Linked DNA regions of Homo sapiens: region 2 is linked to region 1. Evidence: fine-mapped expression QTL. A gene starts in region 1. The other region holds a variant in brackets. All regions are shown on one strand. Distances are between the middles of the regions.

Region 1 (5,364 bases):
GGGCAACATATGGAGATGACATCACTGCAAAAAATAAAAATAAGGCCGGACGTGGTGGCTCACGCCTGGAATCCCGGCACTTTGGGAGGCCGAGACGGGCGGATCACGAGGTCAGGAGATCGAGACCATCCTGGCTAACACGGTGAAACCCCGTCTCTACTAAAAATACAAAAAGTTAGCTGGGCGTGGTGGTGGGCGCCTGTAGTCCCAGCTACTCGGGAGGCTGAGGCAGGAGAATGCTGTGAACCCGGGAGGCGGAGCTTGCAATGAGCAGAGATCGCACCACTGCACTCCAGCCTGGGTGACAGAGTGAGACTCCGTCTCAAAATAAATAAATAGATAAAAATAAAAATAAAATTAGGCCGGGATCAGTGGCTCATGCCTGTAATCCCAGCACTTTGGGGAGGCCAAGGCAGGTAGACCACCTGAGGTCAGGAGTTTGACCAGCCTGACAAATATGGTGAAACCCCTTCTCTACTAAAAATACAGAAATTAGCCAGGCATGGTGGCGTGCGCCTGTAGTCCCAGCTACCAGGGAGGCTGAGGCAGGAGAATCGTTTGAACCCAGGAGGCGGAGGTTGCAGTGAGCCGACATCGCACCACAGCACTCCAGCCTGGGTGACAGAGAGAGACTCCGTCTCGAGAGAAAAACAAAAACTCTCCTGGTCAAGTCACCCAGGGCCATGAAATACGCAAACTACGCCATAGCCGTAAGCCAGCTCACCTGAAATCTGTGTCCTAGAAAGTACCCACGCAGACAATCTACAGGGTCTTGAAATAACTGCTTCTAGTTCTAGATTTCACCTCATTGTCCTGTGGGTAGTCCCTCCTTATTGCCCAGCTCCACTGGCAAAGTTGGCCTCTCCTGAGCCTCTTGGATGAACCTGATTTCCATGTCCTCATGGGCCAGGATATGGACTAGGAAAGTTACATCCAGAGAGAAGGCAGGGCTTGGTAAAATCTGAGCAGCATTCTTGCCTATTCTTCCTGACCAGGGAGAATAACTAGGCAGAGCAATTCATATGCAAGAAAACTTCTAGGTCAAGAGTACTTGGAAGAAGTGACCAGAAATGAACAGAAAAACATTACCTGGGAAAATATTCAAGGAGGAAGAAAAAAATATGCAGGGTCAGTGGCTTTCTTCACCTTGGGTCTCAATCAGCCCTTCTAAGAGACCTGATATTCTGCTTGCTCCTGAGGCCAGAGCTGCAGAGATTGAGCTGCTGCTGCTTTTTTTTTTTTTCTTTTTCTTTTTTTTTGAGACAGAGTCTTGCTCTGTCGCCCAGGCTGGAGTGCAGTGGCATGATCTCTGCCCACTGCAACCTCTGCCTCCCGGATTCAAGCGATTCTCCTGCCTCAGCCTCCCAAGTAGCTGGGATTACAGGTGCACGCCACCACACCCAGCTTTTTTTATTTTGGAGACAGAGTCTTGCCCTGTCACCCAGGCTGGAGTACAGTGGCATGATCTCAGTTCACTGCGACCTCCACCTCCCGGGTTCAAGCAATTCTCCTGCCTCAGTCTCCTGAGTAGCTAGGATTACAGAAGTGCACCTCCACGTTCAGCTAATTTTTGTATTTTTAGTAGAGATGCGCTTTTGCCATGTTGGCCATGCTAGTCTGGAACCCCGGACCTCAGGTGATCCGCTGGCCTTGGCCTCCCAAAGTGCTGGGATTGCAGGCGTGAGCCACCGCGCCAGGCCTGAGCTACTTCTTTAGTCTCTGGAAAGACTGCGGCTCAGAGAAATCAACGCTTTACATGCCATCTCTCCCCTAGTCCCAAGGTCTTCTCTGGACTGGTTCCTTAATTTACCATCTCTCAATCAGAAGCGCCTTTACAAAGGATATCAGGATAGTATTTTTTGGTCAAAGATAACTCTTCCCCCAGAACTCAGTAGGGTCTCTGATGGCATCAGTAAGGGCAATTTCATAAAGCAACCAGGTTCCTGCCTGTTTACAGGCAGCTCCAGTTGTTGGGAAGTGAGCAAGCAAGTGAGGGGAAGCCAGACTTTCTGGAGCTTCCAGCCCTAGTTCTGCCACCCAGGCTTCGGGAGGGCCCCACAAAGTCTGAAATCTACGTGCCCCACCCCCCAAAGCCCCTTCCAGCCCAGGTTCTGGTTTAGCACTAGGCTCAAGAACCTCAGGCCTGAATTCTACTTCCCGTGCATTAAGTCCCACCTTAACATCCCATTCTTATGAAGTCATCCTGTCCTGCGGGGCAATTCTGTGTTGCTGCTGGGGCCTGGTCACTGATAGAGAAGGGCGTGGGCTGGGCCTACCCGGCAGGAGCCGCCTCACCCCATCAGGCCCAGATCCTCTAAGACAAGACAGGGATAAAGTCTCCCGTGGAATCCCCTCCCGCCTCATATTCCCTGACCCTGCCCTCCCTGCGAGAACTCCAGTCCGGGCTCCACAAAGGGCGCGGTAAGAAACGTACACTTCCGAGGGGCAGACAAGGAGGGGGCGTTCACCTACACCCCGGCCGGGCTATGGTCGGGAACAGGGTGAGGGGCCCAAGCCCCGGCTGCGGCAGGCGGGCGCCCTTACCCATGCTGACTCTGGAGCGGGCCGGGTGGCGCTGCCCATCCCCGGATCCTTCGTAGGTGGGTAGCAGGACGTGGGGCTGGGGTCTGCCCGCTAGCCAGCCTGCAGAGCTTGCGGGGCTCGCGCAGGCCGGGCCAGGCTAGACGGGGCGGGGCCCTAAGGCCCCATCCGGACGGTCCTGACTAGAGAAAAAGGCCTGGCCATGGCGCAGGCCGGTGCACCAGCCACCAGCACGGTACGGCCCAGATAGGCGCCCGGCTGGCTCTCTGTGCGTTACCCCCGGCCGCCGCCTCACAGGACCGGCGGGAGGCGGAGCCGCGCGCGACACATGGCCCGGGCCCCGCGCGGCTTCGGGCCGCCGGGGGGGGGGGAGGGGAGGGGCCGCCCGGGGACTCTCAGCGGAGCCTCCCGGCAGCCCAGAGAGCGGCTCCTGCGGCCCAGCCCCCGCCCCGGCGTGCTGGCCCCGACACTCACCCGAGGGGCTGGCACGATGGCGGCAGCGGCAGCGGCAACCCAGCGCGGTCTGCGGCCGACTGTCCCTTCCCCCCTGCCTTCCTTCGCCCGCCCCGCTGCACTCTGGGAGACGCAGTCCCACCGCCCCCCCTTTCCGGCATGAGCGCGCCGAGAGAAAACTACAATTCCCGGCGTGCTATGCGCGGAGGCCCAGACACGGCCCGCAGCGCGGGAGGTGAGGCTAAGCCAGGGAGGGAGGCTGCCGGGGCAAGCCCCTGAGAATTGTGGTCTAGCGGAAGCCTCTGGAACACTAGAGGTTGGCGCCAGGCTAGGGTCAGGGCTCAGTTGTCTCCTGGTCTCAGCTGGCTCGGCCCCGCCCAGTCTGTGCACTGGGGTGGGGGTTGGCCCCGCCTCCGTGGGAGCCCAGCCCGGCCCCAAGCTGGCCCAGCTGCCCCTCCCTGGGCCCCTGGGCCGTTTCCGCTCACGAAACCCCCTCCCCTTGGGGCTATGGCTGCCGCTGTTACTCTTCCGAGCTGTGTGGCCTTAACCAGCCCGGGCGGAACGCACAGCTCCTGCAATCCCAACATTCGTGCGCCTGCACCTCGGCGAGTCGGGCCCAAAGCTGGTTTCGAGCAGGCTAGGCTATTCTTGGGCCGGAGACTCAAATGTCCCTCAGGTGGGGCTTGGTTGGAGAGGTTACCCTCAAACTTCTACAGTCAGGGGTCCCCCCAAAACATTCTGTAAGGTTTTTTTGCAGCAGATAGAGCAGCTAAGTGTTTCATTTTTATTAATGAGGAAAGAGAAATGACTGACTTACCCAAAATTTCGCTGTGATTTAAGTGACCAGATTGTAAATAGTTCTCTTCCTACCCATTGCCCTTTCCTTTCAACGCCCATTTGTTTTCTTGGTAACACAAACATTTGTGGTAAGGCCAGTCTCTAGGTCAGACCTGTGCTTGGCAAAGAGATCTGCAGCCAACTTGGGGTACCACAGGTAAGGGAAATGGCTACAAGGCCTCTCCAGGCAACTCCTAGCCTTCCTTCCTGGCCGGAGGTCTCTCAGTACTCCTGTTCTTCCACAAGAGTTTTGCACCTTCCCCCACCCACAGGCTACCCCTCCAAGAGATGGCTGGTAAGACCGGACCACACTTCTGTTTTTTAAATCTCAGGTCTGTCAACACTACACTTTGCCTGACTAGATGCTTATTACTCAGCTAGTGAGAACTCTGCATTGCCCCGCTTATACATCTGCATCTGGGATCTCCCTTGCTCTGTGAACTGTCTTCTTCTCCCTAAGAAGCCAAAACACTGCCCATAACCTCCAGACACCAGGGAGGGTCCAGGGAGTACTGCTGAGAGCCTCAAGGGAGCCAATGCAGAAACAGCAGAAGTCCCTTCAATAAATAGGAGCTCAAGGATACACTGAAGAGCATGGCTGGATCCTGGAAAAGGCCTTGCTCCGACCGGGAAGATGTGAGACTGGCCCAATAGGAGCAACAAAGGGCACTGCAGTGCTTCCACCACCTGATTACCAGCCAGATCTAACCCTAGGAAGACAGAGGTCCAGTCCATCCCCCAACCAGCCACCTACACAACCTATGTCTCACTCCTTCCCCACCACTTTCCCAACTCAGTGCTAAGGGACTAGAAGGGAAACAGAGACTTGAGTTTTAGGACCATCCCAGCATGTTGCCACAGACAAGTCCCCAGGCAGATGGCTTTGTCCATAAGTAAGAAAGAGAAGGGAGTCATATTTTATGGGGTCTGAAAGTCTCCGTTTGTGCCCCACCACCCACAGTAAACCCAGAGCTTTAAAGGCATTTACTTTTAGACATTGGCTTTGAGCTAAATTACTTGGAGCTATAGACAAAAGCAATGTAATCCTTGCCCCTTCAATATTCAATCTAAGAAAAAATAGAGGCTGGGCGGGGTAGCTCACACCTGTAATCTCAGTACTTTGGGAGGCAGAGCAGGCGGATCACCTGAGATCAGGAGCTCGAGACCAGCCTGGCCAACATGGTGAAATCCTGTCTCTACTGAAAATACAAAAATCAGCCCGACGTGGTGGCGGGTGCCTATAATCCCAGCTACTCAGGAGGGTGAGGCAGAAGAATTGCTTGAACCTGGGAGGCAGAGGTTGCAGTGAGCTGAGATCACACCATTGCACTCCAGCCTGGGTGACAAGAGCAAAGCTCCATCTTAAAAAAAAATAAAAAAAAAAAAATAGAGGCAGGCAGCCAAGAAAATGAGTCAAGGAATCACACCTCCCAACTTCTTAATGCTCTCTGTGGATACAGCTCTGTCACACCGAAGGTGTACCAAGGCCAAGGTATCTATACAACAGTCCTTGTGCCTGAAGCAGCCCTGGCT
Region 2 (5,364 bases), 70 kb before region 1:
CAGGAGAGGGAGGGGATGGCTGACGCACCAGGGATGGCTCTGAGTGCAAGCCACCACACCCTGCTCTTTGTTGGCCAGGCCTCAAGGGCTGGAGGTGGAAAAAGTGATGAAAGGCAGCTGTGACCCAGGGTGACGTGATGCTATGGGTGGTCAGCAGGAACGGCTGAATGCAGCAGCGTGGCGGGTGGGTCTGCTCCTGCCACTACAGGGAAGTTGCTGCTTTCTGGGGTGTATGCAACCAGGGCAGCAGTGACAAAGGGAAACCTAGAGGACAGGGCTCTGGGGAGCCCAGTGGTGGCACAGAGGTGACACAAGATGGGGCTGCTGCTCTTCTCCACTCAGAGCTTCCTCTGGCCTCACATGGAGAGAGCTTCCTCTGCCTTCCTGCCAGAGGTCTCCAACCAAGGGCAGGTCCCCAGCCACAGTGACCAACTGAGGGTCCACTGCCTCCATCCAGTGGCCCAAACCATGCCACCTCCCAGTGACTAGTCAGGAATCCAGCCTGAGGGCATTGGCTCCTGCAGTGAAGGAGGGAGACTTAATCTGTTGAACACTTCGTGTTTTGGTGAAGTGGGGATGGCTTTTCCCAAGGGAACCTTCCTGGCCAGGTATGGGGGCATCTGATCATCCTCATGGGATCCTCACACACAGACAGCACAAGCATCCAGCACTTGACATGCAGCAGCCCCAGCAGGCTGGCAGGGAAGAAGGGCTTAGGGACAGATGCCTCATAGCAAAGAATTCTAAACTGATTTGTGTTTGCTCGTGCTGTCAGCTATTGAGACAGTCGTGGGAAAGCCATCCTCTGACTCTGGGAGCAGGGGTCAGTGAGAAGAGAGTTGAGCTGATGGGTCCATCACAGTCCCCACCCACACTGAAGGTGAGAAAAGTCAGGCAATTAAAGCATCCAGGAGAATCCAAGCATAAGCCAGGAAACACGCTCCCCGCTTCCCTGCCTCCACTCTGCCACCAGCATATACATTTGGTCTCCTGCTCTCCAGACACCCGGACAGCGCTCCCCATGACTCTGGGATGAGGTCCTATCCCTGCTCACATGGCTGCTCCTTGTGACATATGCGGGGAGATGAGGGGCAGGGAGGGAGACAGAAAGTCAGAGCATAGGACCAGGCTGCATAACCAAGCCCCGTCACCTAGAGAGCACTGAGACATGCCACATTCTCTGCATCTCATTTTATCTTCTACATCCCAAGGCATGTTAGAGTCACTTTAAGAAGTGGGGAGGTCGAGTGTGGTGGCTCACACCTGTAATCCCAGCACTTTGGGAGGCCAAGGCAGGCAGATCACCTGAGGTCAGGAGTTCCAGACCAGCCTGGCCAACGTGGTAAAACCCCGTCTCTACTAAAAATACAAAAATTAGCCAGGTGTGGTGGCTGGCACCTATAATCCCAGCTACTTGGGAGGCTGAGGCAGGAGAATTGCTTGAACCCAAAAGGTGGAGGCTTTGGTGAGCCGAGATCACACCACTGCACTCCAGCCTGGGCGACAGAGTAAGACTCCATCTCAAAAAAAAAAAAAAAAAGAACTACAGGTGGTCAAGCTCATTGCCCCTTCAGGTATACTTAGCCCCAGATCAATGTATGGTCAACCTGCAGACCAGACACCCAACCCTGGGAGGCCACCTCCCACCAGCCCTTGTCACCCAGGTAGCAGCAGAGTGGCTATGAAGGTGGGCTTCCTCTCCCAACAGTACTCTGTCCCCTGCCCAGCAGCACTCACAAGGCTCTGTGAGAAATTCTACCCAAGCCCACCTGTTCCTAGTACAGTCACCTGGGCTCACCCACAGCTCAGAGACTGGCCAAGCAGAGGAGGGTGATAATTCAGGATGCTGAATGCAGCAGACAGCAAAGCTCCTAATGGCATCACTCTAATATCAATCCTACAAGAGCCCCTTCATCCGTCCTGCCTCTAGGAATAGAACTCTTGACAAAAGCACTGACATCAAGGATGTCACATTTCATGTCAAGTGAATCACAGACTCTCTGCATTGGAGGACCCTGACAGTTCTCTAGCATGAGTCTGTAGCTGATGACTCACCTTCTGTGTCATCCTTTAGAAACAGCTCCTCCAGGCCTCCTGTGATAGGAAGCCGCCTCTCAAGGTGACTGTGTCCTCAAACTGCTCTCACATTCACACAGGCCTTCGCTACCTCTCCCAACCTGTGTCTCCCCACCACTTCCAGCATGCCCT[C/T]TCCACTCCAGCGTGCCCTCTCCACTCCAGTGCCTCTGGGTGCTGGGTAAACATTCAGATTTTTCCTTTCCAGTCATCTCCTCCTCAGCATTTACCCCTCTTCCAAGAGTCTTGTATTTGCCCTAAAAGTTGACAAGCACACACCAGCCCTGGGCCTTTAAATCCTCCCCCTGCCTGTGCCCACAGGCAGCTGTGGCCAGCAGCCCCCTAAGCGCATTGCCAGCAGGCTCTCTGCTTCCTCCTGGAGTCTGGCCCCTTGAGGGGAGCACTCCACTGGCTGCACAGCCTGTCTGCCTGCCAGCAGTCACATTTGGGACGCTTCCCAGGGCATCACCAATAGCCACTGGTGCTTCCCTCAGGAGAAGCCAAGAGAAAATTCCCCCACCAGTTATCACTTATAAATACTGCAGTTCAACCCAGCATACAGGTACCACTGTGCACTAAGCCTGGACACGACAGTGGACAGCATATGTATTGATGTACATGCTGTCCTCAAGGACCCTACAGGCTAGACAGGAGAGATGTGTCCACTGATCAGCAGCCAGAAAGCACTGAAACAAGAAACCAGCAACGTGCTGAGGCACACATACCAGGGAGAGCAGACTGCAGCACTAGACAGGCCAAGAACTCTGAAGCCAAGACAGCCTGGAATCAAATCCCAGATGTGCCACCCTCCAGTCGGGAGACCATGGCCAAGTTATGTAACCTCACCATCCTCAGTTTCCTCATCTGTAAGGTGGGGGATTACGTACCACCTGGCAGGGTTGTCATAGATTGGAGATGGGGGGTGTAGAACATTCAGCCCTGGGTCTGCTACTTAGTGGGCACCACACAATGGCAGTAGGCAGCATTATTTCTAAAGGAAACAACTAAGACCGATACTGGGAGCAGCGTGAACAGTTGAGGCAGAAGCTTGGTGTGGAGAGTGAATGGGGGCAATGGCTCAGGCCTGTGGTGTGCAGGGAGTGGGGTGGGGTCTAGGGCATGGGCTTCAGGCTGGGGGATCTGGAGTGCCAGGATGGTAGGCAGGACCCCACATGCTCTCCAGGTCAGAGGGTAGCCTGGAATCCTCTCCAAGTCTGCCCATACAAGCTGATGTCCCTCCTGCAGAGCTAGGACTCTGCTCCATACTCCTTCACCTCCTATACTGTGGCTTACATATGCCATGTGGATCCCACTCCCTGGGATCCCTGATCTGCCCCAAACATCCCCAGGAGGACAGGATGGAATTATTCCAGTAGCCTCCAGCTAGCCTTCCTCCTGCCAGGCTCCATTCCCACTTTCTGCTGCCTTCCTCCTCCATTACCCAGAACCCAGAGGGCTCCTCCCACAGTGCAGAGGGCTCCCAACAACAAACACCAGACCTGCCCCAGCCTCTTCAACCTCTGCTCTGTCACTCCCAATCTCCTGTTTATTCTGGAGCACTCAGCAATGCTCCCTTCTCTGGGCCTCCTCCTTCTCAAAACTCATCTTCTGCAGGAAGCTTTCTATTCAAGTCCATGGATGCCACTGAGCCTGACAGAGGACTGGGGCTGCATGGACAGAGCTTGCAGGAAATAGGCACACCAGACCCGGCCTGGTGTACAGGGGAGAGCACTCTATGGGGTCAGGGAACAGGAAAGGTGCCCCTAGAAAGGCACCAAGCACCACGAGACACTCGCTGGTGAAGAATGCATACCTCCAAACGCTGCTGCGTCAGAGGTCCTTCATTCACACAGCAACAACCCCCTCATCATGGAACACTCTCTCTCTCACAGGTTATCCTGGCAGAGGCTTGCTCACTTACATGGCCTTCCTAATGGCAAACACCTATTACACATATAGGACAGATGGCTGGAGTGGGTGGGGTCAGGGCCCAACCACCTGACCTGAGCACCATAGTCCATGTTCCAGACTGCCCAGGCCCAGTGGCTCTATGCCAAGGCCTGTGTTCACATGTGTCTGCCAATGCGGGTTCATTCTATGGCCATTCCCTATTCTAGTTCCTTCTCCCCAGGCAATCTCAACCTCTAGGGATAGGAAGAACAGGCCTTCACGTCTCTTGCATTTTCCCCAGGTGTGAGCAGGTGTGCTTGTGGGTGGGCAGTGGCCAGGAGAACAACAATAACAAAAAATGCCTGTCCTAGTGTCCTGGGATAGAGCTATAAAAGCATGCCAGGTTGCTGGCAGGAGCTTGAAGGAGGTGCTGCCTCTGCTTACCAGGAGACCGTCTAGCTGTGAAGTGAGTGGCTGGAAGGAGTGATTGCTGGGTCCCATTCTAGCGATGTCTGTCCTCACCTCCATGCAGAAAAGTAAAGAGAAACCAGGGCTCTGCCAGGGAGTGGCAGAGGCTGGTACTTCTCAGACTCCTGATGTTTATGCACATCCCCTGGAATCTCATTAAAATGTAGATTCTGATTCAACAGGTTTTGTGGGGCCTGAGGGTCTGCTGGATGTTCTCCAGCTGAGAGAGCCTGATCTCATGATAAGGACCCCTCCCCCAGGAAATGTCCCAGACGGATCCCTCCCAACCCAGAGCTCTCCACAGCGGGTGATAGAATCTGATTTTTGGGGTCAGGCAAGCTCCTGGTCACAGATAAGGGCCACCAGAACCTGCCAGGATTTGCCTCTGGAGCTGGAAACTGATGCTTTTCAGCTCCAGGTAAAGGGTAGTGGGAGCAAAGGCTGAGCAGTGCCTCTCCAACACACACACACACACACACACACACACACACACTCTCTCTCTCTCTCACTCACTCACTCATTCACTCACTCATTCACTGTGAGCTGCAGAGTCCTGCCCTGTGATTCCAGCAGAAGAACAACAGAATCTAAGGACCCAGTCTTTCGGCTACAGTAGGAGCGGGCAGGAACCCACTCCCCACCCCATTCGTCATTTTCCAACCCTCAGGTAATCAATAGCCAGTTAGCAAGACTGTGCAAGCTCCAATTAGATTAGCTGCCAGGTCAACGACTGCCAGAATCAGGAACTCAGGCAAACCTACAGGCTTGTAGCAGAGTCCTTCCTCTGTCAGCGTATCTTGGGAAATCTCTCTCCCTCACTCCTGGGCTAAGTTCAATGCCCCCTCTGCCAGCTGGACCCTCAACAGCCTGGCACCATGCAGTGCTCCCAGAACACAATCAGCTTCTCAAGCTTCAGACATTCCCAGATCTATC

What was found. PIP is the estimated chance that this variant, and not a neighbour inherited with it, causes the effect. A credible set is the group of variants that fine-mapping cannot tell apart.
Region 2: its variant is the best candidate, but not a certain one, in a credible set for the expression of CENPT in whole blood (TOPMed, PIP 0.50).

The regions. Positions count from the first base shown.
Region 1 is chr16:67,844,637-67,850,000 of GRCh38, reverse strand. It overlaps CENPT (centromere protein T), which reads left to right and starts at 2,308. Exons shown (of 16, transcript NM_025082.4): 1 at 2,308-2,600. It overlaps NUTF2 (nuclear transport factor 2), which reads right to left and starts at 3,068. Exons shown (of 5, transcript NM_005796.3): 1 at 3,016-3,068. RefSeq lists an enhancer at 2,183-2,292 and silencers at 2,763-3,112, 3,313-3,582.
Region 2 is chr16:67,914,769-67,920,132 of GRCh38, reverse strand. All of the region lies in intron 2 of PSKH1 (protein serine kinase H1), which reads right to left. Among named protein-coding and RNA genes, the nearest start is that of CTRL, 14 kb to the left of the region's middle. RefSeq lists enhancers at 236-741, 3,894-4,417. The variant C/T (reference allele first, on the strand shown) is at 2,209.